3 linked regions of the Homo sapiens genome follow. The protein of the gene in region 1 purifies or fractionates together with the protein of each later gene. This does not show direct contact. Each region holds a gene or a part of one and is shown in the gene's direction. Other genes may lie near its edges.

Evidence for each region.
Region 2: the proteins of NOL8 (region 1) and URB2 purify together in Homo sapiens (affinity purification with mass spectrometry; 2 studies listed by BioGRID and IntAct, with this or other methods). This does not show direct contact.
Region 3: the proteins of NOL8 (region 1) and WDR89 purify together in Homo sapiens (affinity purification with mass spectrometry; 2 studies listed by BioGRID and IntAct, with this or other methods). This does not show direct contact.

The regions. Positions count from the first base shown.
Region 1 is NC_000009.12:92,322,327-92,329,876, reverse strand, and holds the start of NOL8 (nucleolar protein 8), read left to right. Parts: upstream 1-4,526; 5' UTR 4,527-4,571; exon of another isoform or gene 4,572-4,697; intron 4,698-5,667; 5' UTR 5,668-5,715; coding exon 5,716-5,854; intron 5,855-6,373; coding exon 6,374-6,436; intron 6,437-6,525; exon of another isoform or gene 6,526-6,641; intron 6,642-7,550. Other genes in the region: CENPP (centromere protein P), read right to left, coding at 3,772-3,878. UniProt on the Homo sapiens protein: Plays an essential role in the survival of diffuse-type gastric cancer cells. Acts as a nucleolar anchoring protein for DDX47. May be involved in regulation of gene expression at the post-transcriptional level or in ribosome biogenesis in cancer cells.
Region 2 is NC_000001.11:229,636,238-229,643,261, forward strand, and holds part of URB2 (unhealthy ribosome biogenesis protein 2 homolog), read left to right. Parts: coding exon 1-2,010; intron 2,011-7,024. UniProt on the Homo sapiens protein: Essential for hematopietic stem cell development through the regulation of p53/TP53 pathway.
Region 3 is NC_000014.9:63,596,857-63,603,880, reverse strand, and holds the end of WDR89 (WD repeat-containing protein 89), read left to right. Parts: intron 1-1,573; exon of another isoform or gene 1,574-1,703; intron 1,704-1,946; exon of another isoform or gene 1,947-2,410; intron 2,411-3,907; coding exon of another isoform or gene 3,908-3,938; coding exon 3,939-5,102; 3' UTR 5,103-6,842; downstream 6,843-7,024.

The DNA.
Region 1 (7,550 bases):
TTACATTAAATATAGAAGTCAAGGAAAAAAGAACAGATTGGGCACAGCGACTCACTCCTGTAATCCTGAGGCAGCCCAGGAGTTCAAGACCAGTCGGGCCAACATGGTAAAACCCCATGTCTACCAAAAAATACACACACACACACACACACAAAATTATCTGGGCATAGTGGCAGGTGCCATGCCTTCAGTCCCAACTACTTGGCTGGTGGAGGGTCGCTGAGGCAGGACGATTGCTTGAGCATGGGAGGTGGGTGAAGGTTGCAGTGAGTCATAATCATGCCACTGCACTTCAGCATGGGCAACAGAGTGAGACCCTCTCTCAAAAAACAAAACAAAAAAGAAAAAGAAAAAGAAAAAAGAACAGAGACAATCTTCATATATAAATGATGTGCGGCCGGGCACGGTGGCTCACGTAATCCCAGAAGTTTGGGATGCCGAGGTGGGCAGATCACCTGAGGTCAAGAGTTCGAGACCAGACTGCCCAACATGGCGAAACCCCATCTCTAGTAAAAATACAAAAAATTAGCTGGGCATGGTGGCGGGTGCCTGTAATCCCAGTTACTCGGGAGGCTGAGGCAGGAGACTCCCTTGAACCCAGGGGGCGGAGGTTGCAGTGAGCTGAGGTTGCGCCACCACACTCCAGCCTGGGCGACAAGAGCGAAACTCCGTCTCAAAAAAAAAAAAAAAAAAAGCCATAAATATAAATGAGCTTCTGACAAGTGAACACCAAATGTCACAGCAAACTATGAAGGAAAATTTCAAGGTATTTCCGATAGAGCAAAGTGGTAAGAGAACCAAGTCATCATTAAAGGCTGGATATGCAGAACTCAAAAAAGAACCTGCAGTTGTCAGAGTGGCTAGTAGGGAGTTCGTGTTTAATAGGTATGGTGTTTCAGTTTAGGGGTGATGAAAAAGTTCTGAAGATGGACAGTGGTGATGGCTGTACAACAATGTGCATGTGTTTAATGCCATTGAGCTGAACGCTCAAAAATGGTTAAAATAGTAAATCTTATGTATATTTTGCCACAAAAAGAAAATCTGCATATTCTTATTCATAGCAGTTATTTAGTTTGAGCAAAATATTTGTGTATTTCAACTAATGATGTTAGTTTGAGCTATTTTGGATTTGTTTGAATTTTATTCACTTTGTGGTTTTATTATTTGTAAGTTTGTCCTCATAACATAAAAATTTTTTGTCAGAATTAGGAGCTTGCAAGAATTTTTTTTCCTTTAAAATCAATCTGTACACGAGTTTAAAGGTCAATGGTCTACTAATGAGTGTTAGTTACTATTATGAGGCAAGTACTCTTCTAAATGAACTACATATATTAACTCAATTAGTCCTCACAGCAACCCAAAAACTTGGGTATAATTTTACCACGGAGGAAACTGAAGCACAGAAAGGGGGAGCTCACTTAACCAAGATCACTCAGCCAATAGCAGAGACAGGATTTGAAAGCAGGCAATTTGGCTCCACAGTGTGGACATATGGATATAGCTGAATAATTTAGCTCCAATTTTCCTACCTCCAATCCATCCAACCACTTATAATCACTTAAAAAAATAGCTTGGTACATAGGTTCCAATCCTCCTCCTCCACTATAGTGAAAAGAAACCTCACGGTTAAATCCAAACACCCTGGACTGACATTTAATGTCTCCCACAATCTGGACTCTTCTGACTTTCCAATTTAACCACTGAGAAGTCCCAGATTATATAAATAATCTACTAAGAACTAAAAATAAAATCCTACCCCACCCCCACAATCACCTGAACCGACTCCCTCTTGGTCAAGGGGACCCCAAAGAAACCTTAAAAACTCAGTTCTTAACCATGACAGGATGGGAGGTCAGACACACCTCGTTATACCCCTTCCTATTTGGGATGTAGACACAACAACTGACCAGCATTAATGTTAAAATAGAGATCGTAAGAGTTGCAGAACGGACTCTGTGGCAATAAGATACCAAATTATAAACAAGACCTAAGGCCATGCCAGGCAAGGGTTAAGTCACATACCCCCTACCTTTAAAAGAATGAACTATGTTCTAACTGCCACAATATTTTTTTCACTAGCACTGGCCTCCAGATAAGCAATATTGAAATAATTGCAGTTCATCCACCACCAGATGCTAACTGATTCCCCTGTTCCACAGGCTTTGATAGGACAAGAGAATGATTTCAAAAATTTTCTTTTGATAAGATCACCAACCATGGACTTGTTCTAACAGGTTTACAAGGCCTGTGTACTTAAGTACCTTTGCTTCCCTCCTTCAACTTTTGACGTACAGGGCCTAATTGTAATGCATTTAAATATTAAGTCAGCTTCCCAAAATGAATATGGAGTGCATGTAATATGCATTTTTATTCAGTACAGGTGAGCACATCTCCCTTCGTGAATATTCATAGCCCCTCCTATAACCTGTTGAATATGTATACCTAGCCCACTCATACAGCATAAATCCCTGCCCCAACCCCTCCTCCTCCAAAGTGTGGGCCTTTCTGCTTTGCCTGAGACTATGCTTCCTAGCCTGTCAGGATGGCCACTTTGCAGACTGTAACCCTTTTTAAGAAATAGTCTCTCTAAATTTGCAGATCTCATGATTTTTCAGTTGACACTACTATGGGGACTAATGAAATCTTGTGGCCAGTAAAGAAACTATTTTTCCCTGGTTCTTAAACTTCCAAGTGTGCACACAAATCCTCTGTTAGGGCAGTGTATTTTTTTAAAATGCAGATTCTGATTCAGTAGGTCAGGATGTCGCTCTAACAAACCGCCAGGTAATGCTAAAGCGTCCCATCTGTGGAGCACACCTCAAATAGCAAGGGTCTTTAATACATTTACTCTCATTTGTGGAGGAGCACACCTTTTTCCTCTCCCTTTAACCAGTCACAGCTTCCTCTACTTTCATGACCGCACGCAGACATTTTCTGTAGATCTCCTCCTTCCCATTTTCTACCAATTCTTCTCCAGTTAGCTCAGGAAAAATCCCATTCTTTCTGCACCTATGTCAAATTACTCTTGACTCAAAAATTGAAGACAGTTTATGTTTTCGAGAGGCTTCTATGTTTGAGATGATAATACATAATTACGGTTGCAGAGCTTTTCTCTCCCTCTCCTTCAATAAACCAAAAGTGCCCAGACTTTGGAGTAAAATTTTTGGGTCCCAATCCATCTCTGACAATTCCTTTCTCTGGAACCTTGGACAAGCTACCTAACTTCTCTGAGCCTCAGTTTCTTCAACTATAAAACAGGGCTAACAGTAGCACCTACCTCAGAGGAATGTCAAATTCTCCTGCAGTCTATATTAACTACTTTTCTTTTATCAACTTAGTTTTTTACCGAAGTTATTTTTCAAAGGAATTTTTATGTCATCGTAAACACAAAGTCATTATCAGTTGAGATGGTTAGCTGACCTACCAAAACAAATGCCATGAAACCAAACGGAGTTATTAAATCCCAACTAGAGATACTTCTGCATACTGGAGGCGGAATTATCTAGCTAGGGATATAGTCAAGACTTCCTCCTTGTCAGTCATCCACACAGACGACTGCGATTAAACGAGTTAATACCCTGCAATGCGTTTACAGCTGGGCGCCGTACGCGCTGCTCCCAACTCTAGGCCATCGTCATGACAGGATCAATGCCAGTTCATGCCCACTTTCTAGGGCTGGGAGTAGGAGACCGAGGATGTCTGTGGAGATTCACCCGCCTGGCCCGGGAACCCTGGCCAGCGGGCCCTGGGGGACTTGGGGTGGTCACGTACTGGACTCGGGACTTCTCTTCCCAGGGCGCCGGTGGGTCCTCACACGCTCGCCGCAGGGCCGCGATCTCAGCTTGCAAGGCGCGCACCTCTGCCAGCTCTGCGTCCATGGCGCGTTGCTGACCGCAGCCGGGCCGGCAGCGCAGCTGTCACTCCGACCTGCGCGCTTCACCCGCGCTTCAAGCCTCGCGCGCGCTCCCGGCGCGGACCATCCCAGAGCTCACGCGGAGGGGAGGCGGGAGAGCTCCGCGTGACCCCAGCGGCCCTGCACGTCCAACTCCGCTCTCGCACGAGAGCCTGAGTCCTCCACTTCCCCGCACACGTTTCCCTGGCTGTCTAAGCAGTGGCTATACTTTCTCTGGAGAGCGCGTTCTTTGCTACTCCAAGCCCAAGCGCTCCGCTGCTCACCCTAGCCGGCAGCCTTGGAGCCGCCCGGCCGCGTGCCTCACTAAAGAGGCAGGGCTGGGATCACGTGGAGGGGAGCGCCTCTTTATTTTTTTCACCTACTTCCTCTCTTACGCCGACCTAGTCCAGGAATTGGTACACACAGCGATAGTGTTCAATAGAAACTAGGGGATTTTGGTTTAGGCTCTTTTGCAGTCGTTGAGGGGGAGGTGACGGAGGCGTCAGGGAAGGTGGGAGGACGGAAAAGGAAATTAAAAGCTCTTGGGAACTGAATTGTGGTAACGGAACCTTAGGAGGCTGGGTTGGAAATCGAGTAGGAAGGAAGAGAGGATGCTCCGTTGGGACACGTGACCAGAAGTTAGGGGCTGCAGCGGCGCTGGCTTTAGGTGAACGACGTGGTGAGGAGTGGGTTTCGGGCATGAGAAGTCACAGGGCCGTTTCCTAGTCTCTCTTCACTTCTTTGGGTCTTCTCAGAGAAAGAAGGCTGCCGTGGGTAGGCTGGGGGCGGAGACTATCGGGAAGAGGTAGGCCGAAGTTCTGCCCAGAATACACGCCATGTGGTGGACGCTGGTTGGGAGTCTCTTCTGGAAAGAGTCTGTCAGCTCTTGGGGAAGGGAAGGGCGAGAGCTGAGCGCCTGCCGGGTGCTAAACGAAATGAGAGATACTATGATGGGCCCTAGTACCTCTGGAAAAGTTTTCCTGAGTCCCCTGTGATACAGCAACCTTCATAGTATAGTGTTAAGAATTCCAAGTTCTGAAGGTAGACCTGCATTATAATCCTGGATTCACTAATTTTCGGTATGGCATTGAGGAAGTGACTTAACCTCTTCTGCTCTCCTGAAAAATGGGAAACATGCAAACTACTTTGTACAATGCAGGCACATAGCAAAAACACAAGTCTGTATTCGCTATATCCCTTGATCTTTGTGTCTGAACCCCACTTTGCAGCACTTTTATTGTGACATAATATTGTGCCATTTGTTTTATTCTTTTGTGACTATAAGGAGCTCCTAGCCTCTCTATTCACTTCTTTGGGTCTTCTAGGAGGAAGAAGGCTGGGGTGGGTAGGTTGGGGGTGGAGACAATTAGGAAGAGGTAGGCTAGCTCTTTTTATCTTTTAGTGCGTTACATCCTGTTTCTGTCAGACTTTGTTAAAGACAGTAAATGAATGTATGAGTGAGTCAAGGAAAAACATCTAAAAACATGAATACATAAAATTAAGAGGGATAGAGTGTAATATTATGGCCATTTGGAGGAAAAAAACTCTGTCTGTACCTGTGTCTATATGGGTATGGGGTTGCTGTTCCAAAGTGCATTCATGAAAGATGTGGATGTAGGGCTTGGGCAAAACCTCGAAGACTAAAATTTGGAAGTAATACAATAGGAAGTGAAATACAGATCCAGGAGACGGATTTGATACAGAAGGTTCAGAGGAAGTAGTTGTTTTGTTAGATTTTAGAAGAACTAAGGGAAAGAACTCTTCTCTGTATACAGAAAATTACTTTTCCCACTGAAACACACCCAAGTATATGCCCAGCCTTCATGAAAGTGAACAGAGAAACGAAGCGCCTTTATGTGGGTGGCCTTAGCCAGGACATTTCTGAGGCAGACCTACAAAATCAGTTCAGCAGATTTGGAGAAGTTTCGGATGTGGAGATCATCACACGGAAAGATGACCAAGGTAATTTATGGTCCTTCACTGGGCAGTTATAGGCAGACATAACTCAGGTTAAGTGCTAGAAAATAAAACAACCCCAAGATAAATGTTAGCTCTGAACACCAAAAGTTTTAAGTGATGTTGTGGAGGTATAATGTGTGATGTGGAACTTGACCAGAATTTGTTTCTGAAATAAGAAAAAATTCCAAATTCTAAAACATCTGATTTCAGAAACATATTAACTTCCAGTTTTGAGAACTAGAATTTTCTAACATGGATTAAGTGTCCCGTTAAGTAGACTATCACTAGCATACAATCAAAATGTTTCCTTATCTGACTACTGGACATTTTCTTCTTTTTTTTTTTGGAATATTTTGATAATTATGCTTATTTTTATAGCCAATAAAAAACAAGGTTTATCTTTGAAATAATAAGTTTTCAAGAGCTATTTTTTTTTTTAATTTAGAAACAACCGTTTTTACATTGCTCTCTGGATAAGAATTTAAATAAATTGTTTTGTTTGTTTGTTTGTTTGTTTTTTAGGAAACCCACAGAAAGTTTTTGCATATATCAACATCAGTGTAGCAGAAGCGGACCTGAAAAAATGTAAGATCATCATATATTTTCTATACTGTTTGCCAGTTTGTATGACTCTGTAACTTGGAATAACTGGTTCTAAATCTAAACCTCCACAGCCATTTTTCACGTTATCCAGAGGGACAGCAGTGATGAAGAGAATTCCAGTATCGTATAACTCAGCAGGTTTAGGTCCATTCCATTTGGCATCAGCAGACATGGTAGCACTTTACTGGTGGGTTTACTTAAAACTGCTATTCTCAAATATTTTGGACAAGGGACCAAACTTTCATAGAAACTGCCTGTTACATATATCCCACTGAATATCATGCCACATTCCCCCTCAGTCTGATCATTTCTTTGACAGCTAATCCTTGTCACTAAACACTCTTGAGGGGGCTTTAAAATACACCCTTGTAAGACCGTATCCTTGAAATTGTGAAATCTCTTGTTGATAAGTTTAGTAAAGTCAAGGGCAAACAGTGGCCTTCAATGAAGAATGGGAGATAATCCATACTGCCGCTGACACAGTAACATATTCTAGTTATTTGGAGGCCAAAAAGTGAAAAAAGACACGGAAAATAAGTAAAGGGAACACGCTAATAGAGGAAGAGGGCAATCAGTCTTTTGTAATTTCATTTGCGAAAAGATTGCTTTATTCTATTTTACATTGAGGAATATATGTGATAAATGTGAAGTTGTGGTTAAGAATACATCAACTAGGCTTTGTGACCTGTGGCAAGTTACTTAAACTTCTCAGCCCAAGTTTGCTTATGTGATGAATGACAAAAGATAGTGCTTGCCTCATAATATTTCTGTGAGAATTAAATTAAATGATACATTTGCAATACTTTGGGAGGCTAAGGCAGGTGGATCACTTGAGGTCAGGAGTTTGAGACCAGCCTGGCCAACATGGTGAAACCCCATCTTTACTAAAAATACCACAATTAGCTGGGTGTGGTGGCAGACACCTGTAATCCCAGCTACTTGGGAGGCTGAGACAGGAGAATCACCAGGGAGGCAGAGGTTGCAGTGAGCCAAGATAGTGCCACTGCACTCCAGCCTGGGCGACAGAAGGACACTCTGTCTCAAAAAGAAAAGATAAATTTGTACTTAGTACAGTATCTACCACCTACAAAATTCT
Region 2 (7,024 bases), on another chromosome or scaffold:
TGAGCTTGCTGCTGCACTGCATCATGTTCAACATGAGGAGCCTGGACAGCAGCACGCCTCTGCCCATTGTCAGACGGACACAGTGCATGATGGAGAGGATGATGAGGGAGCTCGTGCAGCCCCTGCTGGCCCTTCTCCCGGACACCCCAGGCCCAGAGCCAGAGCTGTGGCTGCAGAAGGTCAGTGACTCTGTGCTCCTGCTCTCTTACACTTGGGCCCAGGTGGACGCTATGTTCAGTTTGAACTGTAGCCAGTATCACTCTATGTCTGGGCCCCTTATAGGTGTTGCTCTGGAGATCTCGAACCTCCCTTCGTTGCTCCCAGGTGTAAAAACACAGCATTGGAAGAAGATAGAGAAGTTTACAGCTCAGTTCAGCTCTCTTGGTACATATTGCTTAGAACAGCTGTACCTGCAGAAAATGAAAAGGACTTTAATGCAAACTAGTTTCCGGTCTGAAGGAGCCATCCAAAGTTTGAGGTGCGATGCTGCCTTTATTATTGGTTCCGGCAGAAAAAGCTTGAATCAGAGAACGACGGCTTCCTGGGATGGCCAAGTTGGGATGGTGAGTGGACTCACATACCCTGTAGCACACTGGCACTTGATTGTGTCAAATCTCACAATTTTAATATCCTATCTGTGTCCAGATGATGTGGGATACCTGGCCAGTGTCCTGCTGAGAACTTTACCCATGGGCAAAGCCCAGGAAGTCTCAATAGATGAAGAGGCATACATCACACTGGAAAAAATATCCAAAGCCTTCCTTCATAGCCCTCTCTTTCCAGAGATGCAGTCCCTTCATTCTGCTTTCTTAACGTGCGTAACCACAAGTTGCTCCAGCATTCTGTGTTCTGGTGCCCAGCGTGACTCAGGTCTTGTCAGTCAGCAGCTTCCCTGGCTTTTTGAAAAGGACCACATGGTTGTGGGTCATTGGGAAAACAGATTTGCAAAAGCTGGACCCGAAGGTATAGAACCTAGAGGAGAAATTGCCCAGAACTTACTGTCCCTGGTCAAGAGTGACTTCCCTATCCAGCTGGAGGGAGAGCAGTTGGAAAGCATCCTGGGGCTTTTGGAAGTGATTTCTGCCTTACAGCTGGACAGCCTCTTGCCACCCTATCATGTGCATTATTTTCTTGTGTTACTGTCCATGGCCGTCACCAAACTAGGATGCTCTTGCTCCTCCTCACTGGCTCTCAAGTTCTTGACGACTTGCTACCAACTTCTTGGTTACTTGCAAAAGGGGAAAAGTGCTCGCTCTGTGTTCAAGATCATGTATGGTAGTGATATTTTTGAGGTTGTACTGACCTCATTGTTCAGAGCTAGTAGTAGGTTCCTTATTGAGATGGATGATCCCGCTTGGCTGGAATTCCTCCAAGTGATAGGGACGTTCTTAGAGGAGCTAATGCAGATGCTCATCCAAATGAAGCTGAGCTTGGTGCTCAATTTTAGAAAAATCACCGCATTCCTCTCTAGTTCCAAACCATACACGGAGGCAGCTTCAAGCAAACAATTAGAAAATCAGAACCCCCAGGGCAGGCAGCTCCTTCTGGTGTCTTTAACCAGGTTGTGCCATGTCCTGGGACCTTTCCTCAAAGAGCAGAAGCTGGGCCAAGAGGCCCCAGCAGCACTGTCTGAGCTGCTGCAGCAGGTTGTGCTGCAGACAGGAGCTGTGCTGCAGCTCTGCTCAGTGCCGGGGGCCCGGGGCTGGCGCCTTCCCTCGGTCCTCATCTCATCCGTCAGCACGCTCTTGGAAGCCGACCTGGGTCAGCACTGCAGGGATGGAGGGGCCGACATTTCCCAAGGAAGCGACAGGACGCTGCTCTCCCATGTTGCCCTCTACCAGGGTGTTTACTCTCAGATACTGTTGGAGTTGCCAGCTCTCGCGGGACATGATCAGTCTTTTCAGGCAGCCTTGCAGTTTTTGACTCTGTTCTTTTTGGCCCCAGAACTGCATCCCAAAAAGGACTCCGTGTTTACCTCCATGTTTCATTCTGTGAGAAGAGTTCTTGCAGGTAAGATATTTTCTCTTGAGCTAATTCTGTGTTATAGAGGTCTGGTTTCCACTGCTCCCCTTTTTGGAACTGGGAATAAGTGAACACGTGATGTGTTCAAAAGGTACCACATGTGCGGCTGGGTGCGGTGGCTTACACCTGTAATCCCAGCACTTTGGGAGGCCGAGGCGGGCGGATCACAAGGCCAGGAGATCGAGACCATCCTGGCTAACACGGAGAAACCCCATCTCTAGTAAAAAATACAAATAATTAGCCGGGTGTGGTGGCAGGCGCCTGTAGTCCCAGCTACTCGGGAGGCTGAGGCAGGAGAATGGCGTGAACCCAGGAGGCAGAGCTTGCAGTGAGCCAAGATCGCGCCACTGCACTCTAGCTTGGGCGACAGAGCGAGAGTCTGTCTCAAAAAAAAAAAAAAGTACTACATGTGGACAGTGAGAAGACCTCCCTTCTAGGCCCAGCACCCACGACTTCATGCCCTCTATTTACATTCTAGGCGTACATAAGCAATTACTGCTACAACGGTTTCCTTGCTTTCTGTGCAAACAGCAGCCTCCTCCGTATGTTGCTCTGCACCTCAGTTGCTCACTGATTTTGGAGGTTGCTCTGTGTACGTTTATAGTTTTGAAATCTGCTCCTCTTCAGCTTTTTAGCCTTTAACTTGTCCTGGCTGCAATGAGATACATAGATACCTGCATCCTTAGTAGGTTCTTATGTATCAGACTTTCAGTGCCATAAATTGACTTTAAAAAGATATGAAAATCTGCCAACTTTAAAAAAGTACAAATCAGAGCCAGGCGTGGCAGCTCACGCCAGTAATCCCAGCACTTTGGGAGGCTGAGGGGGCAGATTGCTTGAGTCCAGGCAACATGGCAAAACCCCATCTCTACAAAAAATACAAAAATTGGCCAGGCATGGTGGCATGCGTCTGTAGTCCCAGCTACTCAGGAGGTTGAAGTGGGAGGATCACCTGAGCCCAGGGAGGTCGGTGCTGCAGTGAGTCTTGATCCTGCCATTGTACTCCAGCCTGGGTGACACAGTGAGATCCTGTCTCATAAAAAAATAAATTAAAAAAAGTACAAATCACTTAATTTCTTTTTTTTTTTTTTTTGAGATGGAGTCTCACTCTGTCTACCAGGATGGAGTGCAGTGGTGCAATCTCAGCTCACTGCAAGCTCCGCTTCCCGGGTTCATGCCATTCTCCTGCCTCAGCCTCCCAAGTAACTGGGACTACTGGCACCCGCCACCACGCCCGGCTAATTTTTTTGTATTTTTTAGTAAAGACAGGGTTTCACCATGTTAGCCAGGATGGTCTCGATATCCTGACCTCATTATCCGCCCACCTCAGCCTCCCAAAGTACTGGGATTACAGGCGTGAGCCACCATGTCCAGCCAAATCACTTAATTTCCAAAGAGCCTCTTACAGTTCCTTGAGGACAGGACTGTGCCTTCCTTAGTTCACCCCTGTCCCCCCACCATATTAGGGTGCTGCCAGGTGCAAGTGCTCACTGGACCAAGGCTAACCTTCAATGTCATCAAAGTGTTTTAGTCTGAAGGCAGCCTTCCAAGCAGCAAACTAGGACCTCGTACACAGCCTCGAAGCAAGAGAGCTCATGTCTTCCTGCACAGAGTCGACCTTTACAGCCCCCCTGGTGAAAGGTTAATGGGTTACTATGCAGCCGTTAAAAATATAATTATGAAAACTATTATGAAGACAAGGGCTAGAAATATCTAGAAAATATTAAGCAAAAAAAGTACAGTATGAAATGTTAAATATGCCACAATTACAGCTATATAAGATATACATGCGTGCAGACAAAGGCTAGAAACCCATCCAAAAATTAAAATAATTATTGTATTAACATGCATGTATTAACATGCATTGTATTATTGCATTAACATGTTGTGATTGTTGCTATTTTCTTATTTTGTACACTTTAATGTTGCATTTTAATAAGAATAAATCAAAATACTTTTCTATGATTTAATTAAATATGCCATAAGCAGGGGATAGATTATAATGTTTTTGGAGGCCCATTTAGAGTTTGTTGAGGTTTTCCTCTACAGTGAAGGATGATTAAGATTTGTTACCTTTATTAGGGTATACAAATAAAACACACTTTTACTCCTCCCAAACAAACAGTTAATGGAAGAGATTTCTTGTTTCAAGATGGCACACATCACAGTTGTGGGGGGTCTTTTCTTTTTTGTTTTGGTGGTAACGAAAGGGCTGGGGTCAGGTCAGTCTTTTGAGGTGAGGTCTGGAAGTCAGCCGAATCTGACCCTCGTTAATGTCACATTAACGTCTGTGTTAAGCACACCTTAACCTCTGTGTTTCTGGGTGGAGAAGCTGTGACGGGTGGGGCCACGGGCGTGCCTTTCGGTACGTGAGGGTTAAATGGGTTCTCGCAGAAAGTAAAGCCATCTGGTCTGCCTGTGCCAGTGCCAGAACTGAAGTGCCATGGGCCAAATCACGCTGCTGTTGTCTCCCTTTCAGTAACCTGTCTCTGGCTGGATTGTGGATTAACTGAAAGGCTTTGATATTACATTGTTCTGTCTTATTGTGTTAGGGTCTCTTTTAGCGAATGGTGTTCACCTTCTTAATGGGGGCTAAAATAGAGTCTTTTATTAAGCCTAATTACAGTGTTCTAAGTGACTGGCCCAAGAAATGGCAGCTGGTGGTCTGAAGCTCTGCCCTGTGCCCCTTAGCTAAAGAGAATATTGTGTCCTCCTTTTCCTCTTCAACCCTACTGAGTTGAGGCAATCTCTTTTTTTTTTTTTTTTTTTTTGAGACAGAGTCTCATTCTGTCACCTAGGCTGGAGTACAGTGGCCCGGTCTCGGCTCACTGCAACCTCCGCCTCCCGGCTTTGAGCGATTCCCATGCCTCGGCCTCCTGAGTAGCTTGGATTACAGGCATGCACCACCATGCCCGGCTAATTGTTGTATTTTTAGTAGAGATGGGGTTTTACCGTGTTGGCCAGGCTGGTCTCGAACTCCTGACCTTAAGTGGTCTGCCTGCCTCAGCCTCCGAAAGTGCTGGGATTACAGGCATAAGCCACCGTGCCTGGCCAAGTTGAGGCAGTCTTTAAGTCCTAAGTGTATGTCCCTGGACTGCTGGTACCTTATTTCCTCAGGGACAGAGCACCTCGGTCACAGTGTGGTCAGGGTTGGGCAAGGCCAGCCTGCCACACTGTGCCCTCAGCTCATGGGCCTGGGGTGTTGCTGTGTCCAGGCCTCTTCCACCTGAGCTGTTAGATACTGTCCAGGGAAGTGCCAGAGTTGTGAGTGCTCTGGAAGAAATGCCAAGTGAGGAGTGGCCCAAGGCTTTGGGCAGGGAGAGGGAGTGTGAAGAGGCGCCGTGCAGGTGCCCCAGCCATGGAGTTCTCCCTGTGTCCTTAAGGATGGCTCAGAGGTGGGCTTTTGTAAAGAATGCCTTCTGACAGCAGAACAGAGGACCTGAATTCAATTACAGAAATCAACACTTCTAAAAATGCTTCTTGGCTGGGAGTGGTGGCTGGCATCTGTAATCCTGCACTTAGGGAGGCTGAGCCAAGAGATCACTTGAGGCCAGGAGTTTGAGACCAACCTGGGTGAAAAAGCAAAACCCCATCTCTACAAAAAGCCGGTGTGGGTAGCATGCACCTGTGGTCCCAACTACTCCGAAGGCTGAGGCGAGAGGACCCCTTGAGCCCAAGAGGTCGAGGCTGCAGTGATCCATGATTGTGCCACTGCACTCCAGCCTGGGTGATGGAGTGAGACCCTGTCTCCAGAAACATAAAAAAAACCAATTAAAATGCTTGTATGTTTGAGGCTGTATCCTGCTCTGGAGATGAGTGAGGTGTTGATTTTGGCCTATGTAATTAAGTAAACAGACATTCGCACAAATCACAGGGTAAAGGTGGGGGAGACGCCATAAAGCGAACCAGAGCGATGGGACTCGGTGGAGAGGCCACATACAGGCCACGTGTGAGTGGCCCTTGAAGGGTAGCTAGGGCAGGTGGAAATGGGAGCCTTTCATGTGAGGGCACTATGTTGTGAGCTCTGTGGCCTTTTTTTGTTTGCCAGCCACAGGAGTTGGTGCTGTTATGCCCACTTCACTGATGAGGGAGTTGAGGTTCAGAGAGATCATGGGTCCAGGGTTTTACAGCTTGTGGGAGACTTGGACCTAGGTCTTTACCTCTCAAAAGTCCCCTTTCCCCCAGTGCTGTAAATAGTAAGCAAAGACAGGAAAGCAGGAAGGTATTCTGGCAATGTGGAATAGGCAGATGGGGCTGAAGCGCTGGCTGGAAAGATGACCTGGGGCCAGACGATAAAGGGCCTTGAGTGCCCTGGCTTTGGGCGTTATTGTGAAACCGTGGGCCCAAGGACACTGGGGATGATGGGGAACAGCTGGGTGACTTCCTGACAGTCATCCAGGCCTGAAAAGTGGAGCTCTCTTAGTCTTTCTGACTTTCCCATCTGTTTAAAATACCACCTACTCTTGCAGCCCTACCGATTTTATAAAGAAACACAAAGAAAATAGAGAAATAAAATACAGTTGACCCTTGAACAACATAGGGGTTAAGGCACCAACCCCCAGCACAGTAAAAAATTCCGTGTATATCCTTCTGATACAATTCTATTAAAAAAATCTTGTATTACTTTTGACTCTCTAGAAACTAAACTACTGATAGCCTACTGTTGACCAAAGCCTTGCTGAACATAAACAGTCGATTACCACGTATTTTGTGTATGTATTTATGTATTATATTCTTACAATCAAGTAAGCTAGAGAAAAGAAGATGTTATTAAGAAAATAACAAGGAAGGGAAAATGTATTTGCCATTCATTAAGTGAAGTAGGTTATCATCAAGGTCTTCATCCTCTTCATCCTCACACTGAGTAGGTTGAGGAGGAGGAAGAGGAGGGGTTGGTCTTGCAGTCTCAGGGGTGCTAGAGGCAGAAGAAAACCCATGTATAAGTGGATCCATGCAGTTCAAACATTGTTCAAGGGTCAACCGCACAAAGCAATAATCACTG
Region 3 (7,024 bases), on another chromosome or scaffold:
CAGTTGTACTGTGCTAGCTACCTCAGCAGCTGTGGAGGTGACTACCCCAGCGTTACTGGAAAATGGTCATTTCATGTCTGAATACTTAAGTTGAAGGAAGAACACCATTTTTAGAGCTACCTAATGCTTCCACGGAGTTTCTCATGTGGGGCTTACAGACTGATGGGGTCCTATCAGAAGGCTTCAGAAGCTGGCTTAAAGGGTCTTAATGGCCAAGTCCAGACACTTTGAGCATCAAAAAGCAACAAAGCGATAGATTATGATACACAGTTTTTAAGAATTGTGATTTCCTAGTCAAAGAAGCAGAGAAAGGAAAAAAGCTCTTGTTTATAGAAGAATGCCTGCTAAGGTAGAAAGAATGATAGAAAAGGACTGTTTTACAGATTCTAGCATAATCATTGATTTAGGCAAGGACAATTAATAGATCCTGAACTCTTTGGATGAAAGTTGTTGAAGAATAGGATATTCAAAAAATTCCATGACATGAAAAACAGAAGGTTGGAGAGATGCTGTTATAGTGAAGTATTTAGGAATGGAGTGATACTTTGTCTGCAGCTAACTCTCATCAAAAGGTTCATTTTTAAAAAGCAGTGGGGTGTGTGTGTGTGTGTGTGTGTAGAGAGAGAAAGCAAATGTGGCAAGAAGTTAACAGTGAACCTAGAAGGTGAACTGTGTGTGTGCATTAGAACTTTTTGTGTGTGCGCACTTATAAATGTTGAAAATTAATGAGCTGTGATGCCATCTCCAAAGGAAAAATAAGTAAAAATAAATGTTGAAAATTAAAAGTTGGAGGGAATGCTTATTTCTATTTTAAACCCAAATCCAGGCTGGGCGTGGTGGCTCACGCCTGTAATCCCAGCACTTTGGGAGGCCGAGGCAGGCGGATCACGAGGTCAGGAGGTCGAGACCATCCTGGCTAACACGGTGAAACCCCATCTCCACTAAAAATACAAAAAAATAAAATAAATTTTAAAAAACCCAAATCCAACTTACTAATATTTTTTGCTGTTTGATGTAATTGTGCTATTTGGAGCTCTCTGATAGATCCAAATTCTCCCTTATATGGTGATACTGGTAATTTTTATATTACATCTTTTTTTTTTTTTTTGAGATGGAGTTTCACTCTTGTTGCCCAGGATGGAGTGCAACGGCGCGATCTCGGCTCACCGCAACCTCCTCCTCCTGGGTTCAAGCGATTCTCCTGCCTCAGCCTCCCGAGTAGCTGGGATTACAGGCATGTGCCACCACGCCTGGCTAATTTTGTATTTTTAATAGAGACGGGGTTTTTCCATGTCGGTCAGACTGGTCTCAATCTCCCGACCTCAGGTGATCTGCCCGCCTTGGCCTCCCAAAGTGCTGGGATTACAGGCGTGAGCTACCATGTCCAGCCATCTTTTTTTTTTTTTTTTTTTTTTTTTGAGTAGGAATCTCACTCTGTTGTTCAGGCTGGAGTGCAGTGGCAAGACCTTGGCTCATTGCAACCTCTACCTCAAGCAGTTCTCCTGCCTCAGCCTCCCGAGTAGCTGGATTACAGGTGTGCACCACAACACCAAACTAATTTTTGTATTTTTAGTAGAGACGGGGTTTTACCATGTTGACCAGACTGGTCTCGAACTCCTGACCTCAGTGATCGCTGCCTCGGCCTCCAGAAGTGTTGGGATTACAGGCATGAGCCACCATGCCTGACCTATTACATCTATTGTGTAGGTACTATGATATGCCATACATTGTGCAGAACACATGGCATGCATTAGTTAATCCTCCTAACAGTTCTTGAGTTAGTACTCATTTCCCCTTTTAAAGATGAAAAGACAGATGCTTAAGAAGATATCACTAAAGCAACAGAAAAAACATTTCATCTTAAGAATGAAAATGAATTTGTTAGACAGGCTAGAAAGAATATTCACTGATGAGAAAGCACAATAGAAGAATTTATTTTATTTTTTTCATTAGTTATTTAGTTTATTATAAAAGAGAAATATGGAAATTATTTACATGATGAAAGATTTCAGAACTTCGGTGGAATGGGCAGCTTCATGTTGATGCCATTTCAATAGTGACTTATTTCAGTTTACGTACTTTCCAAGAACGTCACCATCTCTAAATAGGAAATAATCCTTGTCATCTAGAACTACTTTGGTGCCTCCATGTTATGGGAGAAGAACTTTATCTCCAACTTTCACACGAACTGGTTGAATCTCTCCACCCTTTCCTTTAGAACCCGATCCAACAGCGACTACTGTTGCTTGCAATACTTTTCCTTGAGATTTTTCTGGAAGCATAATGCCTCCTTTGGTTACAGTTTCAACAGCACTCCTTTCAACCAATACTCGGTCAAAGAGTGGAAGAAACTTAAACGCTTGTCCTGCCATGACTCCCTCCACCTCAGACTCGTACTCTGCTCTAGTGTCAAGAATTTATTATAGTGTTACTAGGCATGCATGTTTTTCTGGCCTTGAACTTGTCCTACATACAGCCCACCCTGGAGAGGCAATCTAGTATGGTGGTTTAGAGCACAGTCCGTGAAGCCTGAAGCCAGAATGCCTAGGTTCAAATCCCAGTTCTACTATCACAAGCTGCTACTGCCTTAGAAGGACTTCTCCAGGATTCTATACTGGGAACCTCTGTTGTATTCGTTTCCTATTGCTGCTATAACAAATTACTGCAAACTTAGTTGTTTGAAATAACATTAAGTTTATTATCTTAACGGTTCTGGAGGTCTGAAGTCCAAAATGGATGTCACTGGGCTAAAATTAAGATGTCAACAGGGCTGCATTTCCATTTGGAGGCTTAGAGGACAATCTTTTCTTGCTTTTTAGTTTCTAGAGGCCACTCTCAGCCTCTGTCTTCAAAACCAGCAACATTGTATCTCTCTGTGTCTTTGCCTTTCTTCTATGGGAACCTCTTCCTCTGACTCTTCTGCCTCCCTCTTCCACTTTTGAAGACAGTTGTTACCATATTGGGCCACGGTGATAACAGATAATCTAGGATAATCTCCCTATTTTAAGGTTAGCCTTATATTAGGCTGATAAGCAACCTTAATTCCATGTACAACTTCAGTTTTCCTTTGTAACCTAACATATTCACAGATTCCAGGGATTAAGGCATGAATATTTTTGGGAAACCTTTTTTTTTTTTTTTTTTTTTTTTTTTTTTTTTTTTTGCCTACATATCTATGTTTAAATTCTAAAGTTGTGTAAGGCAGCTGGGGCCAGGAGAAGATTATTCCAAAGTGGAGATCCTTGCCAATCCTGAAGATGACTTGAGTAGAACCAGTAATTGGGTTTGAGCTAAAAGGAACTACTGGGTGGCGTATGTACATGTTTTTTATTCTCTTACTAGCATAAAATATATATAGTAAATTCAGCATTTTTTTTTTCTTTTTTGAGGCAGGATCTCACTTTATTCCCCAGGCTGTATGACAGTGACATGATCATGGATCACTGTAGTCTCAACTTCTGGTCTCAAGCAGTCCTCCTACCTCAGCCTCCTGAGTAGCTAGGACTACAGGCATAGGCCACCATGCCCTGCTAATTTATTTTTTGAAGAGACGGCGGGGGGGTCTCCCCATGTTGCTCAGGCTGGTCTCTAATGCCTGGCCTCAAGCAGTCCTCCTACCTCAGCCTCCCAAAGTGCTGAGATTACAGGTGTGAGCCACCACTCCTGGTAGTGAATTCAGTATTAAAGAGTGATTGAATTAGAAGGCAACTGAGTTTTAGTTACATCATAGGAAGGAAATGATTATAGTATTAGAATACATTTCTGTTGATTGATTGATTCATGCCAGCCCTCAGAGGAAAATGTTCTTGATTTAATTGCAATTTTAGAGAAACTTCAAGTTAAATTTTTTTATGTGTCTCCCTTGTTAAGCATTAATTTTTATTTTTATTATTATTATTTTTTACAGAGTTTTACTACCCTTGGATGCTGCTGTTGACATGGAAAAGATTGAGGAACAATTTGCTAATCTGCACATTGTTAAATGTTCCTTAGGAACCAAAGAGCCCACTTACCTTCTTGGTATAGACACATCAAAGACTGTCCAAGCAGGAAAGGAAAACTTGGTTGCTGTTTTATGTTCTAATGGATCAATCAGAATATATGATAAAGAAAGGTTAAATGTACTACGAGAATTTAGTGGATATCCTGGACTTCTTAATGGAGTCAGATTTGCAAATTCCTGTGACAGTGTATATTCAGCATGTACTGATGGCACTGTGAAATGCTGGGATGCTCGAGTAGCCAGAGAAAAACCTGTTCAGCTCTTCAAGGGTTACCCTTCCAATATTTTTATCAGTTTTGATATTAATTGTAATGATCATATTATTTGTGCTGGTACAGAAAAAGTTGATGATGATGCATTGTTGGTGTTTTGGGATGCAAGGATGAATTCTCAGAATTTATCTACAACTAAAGACTCACTTGGTGCATATTCAGAGACACATAGTGATGATGTCACTCAAGTACGTTTCCATCCCAGCAATCCCAACATGGTAGTCTCAGGTTCATCTGATGGCCTGGTAAATGTATTTGATATTAATATTGATAATGAGGAGGATGCACTGGTTACAACCTGTAACTCAATTTCATCAGTAAGCTGTATTGGTTGGTCTGGGAAAGGTTATAAACAGATTTACTGCATGACACATGATGAAGGATTTTATTGGTGGGATCTTAATCATCTGGACACTGATGAACCAGTTACACGTTTGAACATCCAGGATGTCAGAGAAGTAGTTAACATGAAAGAAGATGCTTTGGACTATTTGATTGGTGGCCTATATCATGAAAAGACAGACACATTGCATGTTATTGGAGGAACAAACAAAGGAAGGATTCATTTGATGAACTGCAGCATGTCAGGACTGACCCATGTGACTAGCCTTCAGGGAGGGCATGCTGCTACAGTCCGTTCTTTCTGTTGGAATGTGCAAGATGATTCTTTGTTGACTGGAGGAGAAGATGCACAGTTGTTACTTTGGAAACCTGGAGCTATAGAGAAGACCTTTACAAAGAAAGAGAGTATGAAAATAGCATCCTCTGTGCACCAACGAGTACGAGTTCATAGTAATGATTCTTATAAAAGAAGGAAAAAGCAGTGATAATGCATTTGGCACTTTGTTTGGTAGGTTTTATAGTTTCAAATAGTCCTTCTTGTTTACTACCCATGGTAGACATGTTTAAAGCTTTATGTAAAAACAAGCCAGTTAGCAAACAGTCCTGGAAAAATATGGTGAGAATGGTTTAATTCCGGTCTTCACATATTCTAAAAAATTTTAAAGCCTCTAAGTATAAAATCAGTGAGTTGAAAGTAAAATTTCTTATTTAAAGAACCCATCTGTTAATGTAGTAAATGTTGGCTTTAAAGAAATAGCTCCGATAAGGACTTTTTAGAAGGAAATACTTGGTAAAACTTAATAAAACAGGTGGTTGGCTGCATTTTTTAAGCCCAGTTTTTTACATTTTAAATTGTCTTTATTGTGTATAAAACCAGATTAGACTATATTCTTCATCTGAGGAGCATCTATATGTTTAATACACCTAATGTATTATGCTGGAGTATTTAAATGTAAGTATTTTAATGAGTAAATAGAATTAACCTTTTTTACAAATGAAATGATAGGCATCTATGTAAAGTGAGAAAAATATGTTTCGTAAATATTTGCATCTTTAATATTGTTAGTAAGTAGTAAACAGGTGTTTTGCTGATTGAAAGGAAGTTATCTTGGTAAATTGAGACTCAAAGTGAAATACAAAAATGAAAATATTTATAATAGGACTCGACTTGGAGAAATTGCTATTCTTCCTGTTGTCCAAACCATAAATCTGAGGATAACCTGGGCTTTTCTCTTTCCTCTTCTCCTAACCAGTTTTTCACCAAGTCCTGTGCCATTTCACCTCCTAACGTCTGTCAGCTATCCTTTTGCCTTTACCTCACCACTATTACCCTAGAGAAGACTTTCATTATTTCTCATCTGGATTACCAGCTCGATCTCTAATCTGCTTCAGTTCATCCTTCTTGCTACTTCTAGGCTAAACATCAAAAACAGATCTGGTAGGGGCGGGGAAATGAGGGGGAAGAAACAAAAACGTGATGGTGCCTCATGCTGCTTAAAATCTTCAGTACATTGATGTTTTGATGGCGGACTACATAAGCGTTAAAAATTGTGTTTTTCAGAATCTTTAAAATATAAGACAGTGCTATCTAGTGAATAAAAAAATTAGTTTGAAAGATATCTGGAGAAATCGCATTCATAAAACAATTGGAAGTGAAACTATTAAAACAATAGGGCTTTTTAAAATTAAAAATATTTAAAATTCAAAAGTAATTAATAGTGTTGGAAGATGTAGGTGAGAAAATATTCCTGAAAGTAGAACTGAAAGAGACAAAGAGAAAAGATGAAAGCCACAGAAGATAAATACAGGGGTCAAAACCAGACTAACAGTTTTAGAAAGTGAAAAAAGTTAAAAAAGAAATGGGGGCAGTGGGTTATTAGAAATAACATAAATGGCTGGTATGGTTTGTCTGTGTCCTCACCCAAATTTCATCTCGAATTGTAATCCCCATAATCCCCATGTGTCTAGGGAGAGACCTGGTGGGAGGTGATTGGATCATGGGGGTGGTTTCCCCTACGATGTTCTCCTGATAGTGGGTGAGTTCTCACAAGATCTGATGGTTTTATAAAGGGCTCTGCCCCTTTAACTCCTCACTCTTTCTCCTGAAGCCTTGTGAAGAAGGTGCTTTGCTTCCCCTTTGCGTTCCCCCATGATTGTAAGTTTCTTGAGGCCTCCCTGGCCATGCTGAACTCTTCAGTCAATTAAACACTTTCCTTTATAAATTACCCAGTCTTGGGCAGTTATTTATAGAGTGTGAAAATGGACTAATATAGTGGCTATTCCAGAACTTCAATCTTTAGATTGAAAGGCACAGCAGAGTGTCAAGTGTAATGAATGAAAAAGATCCACATCAAGGCATAGCACTGTGAAGTTTCAGAGTAAATAGAAAATCCTGCAAGTGTCCGGA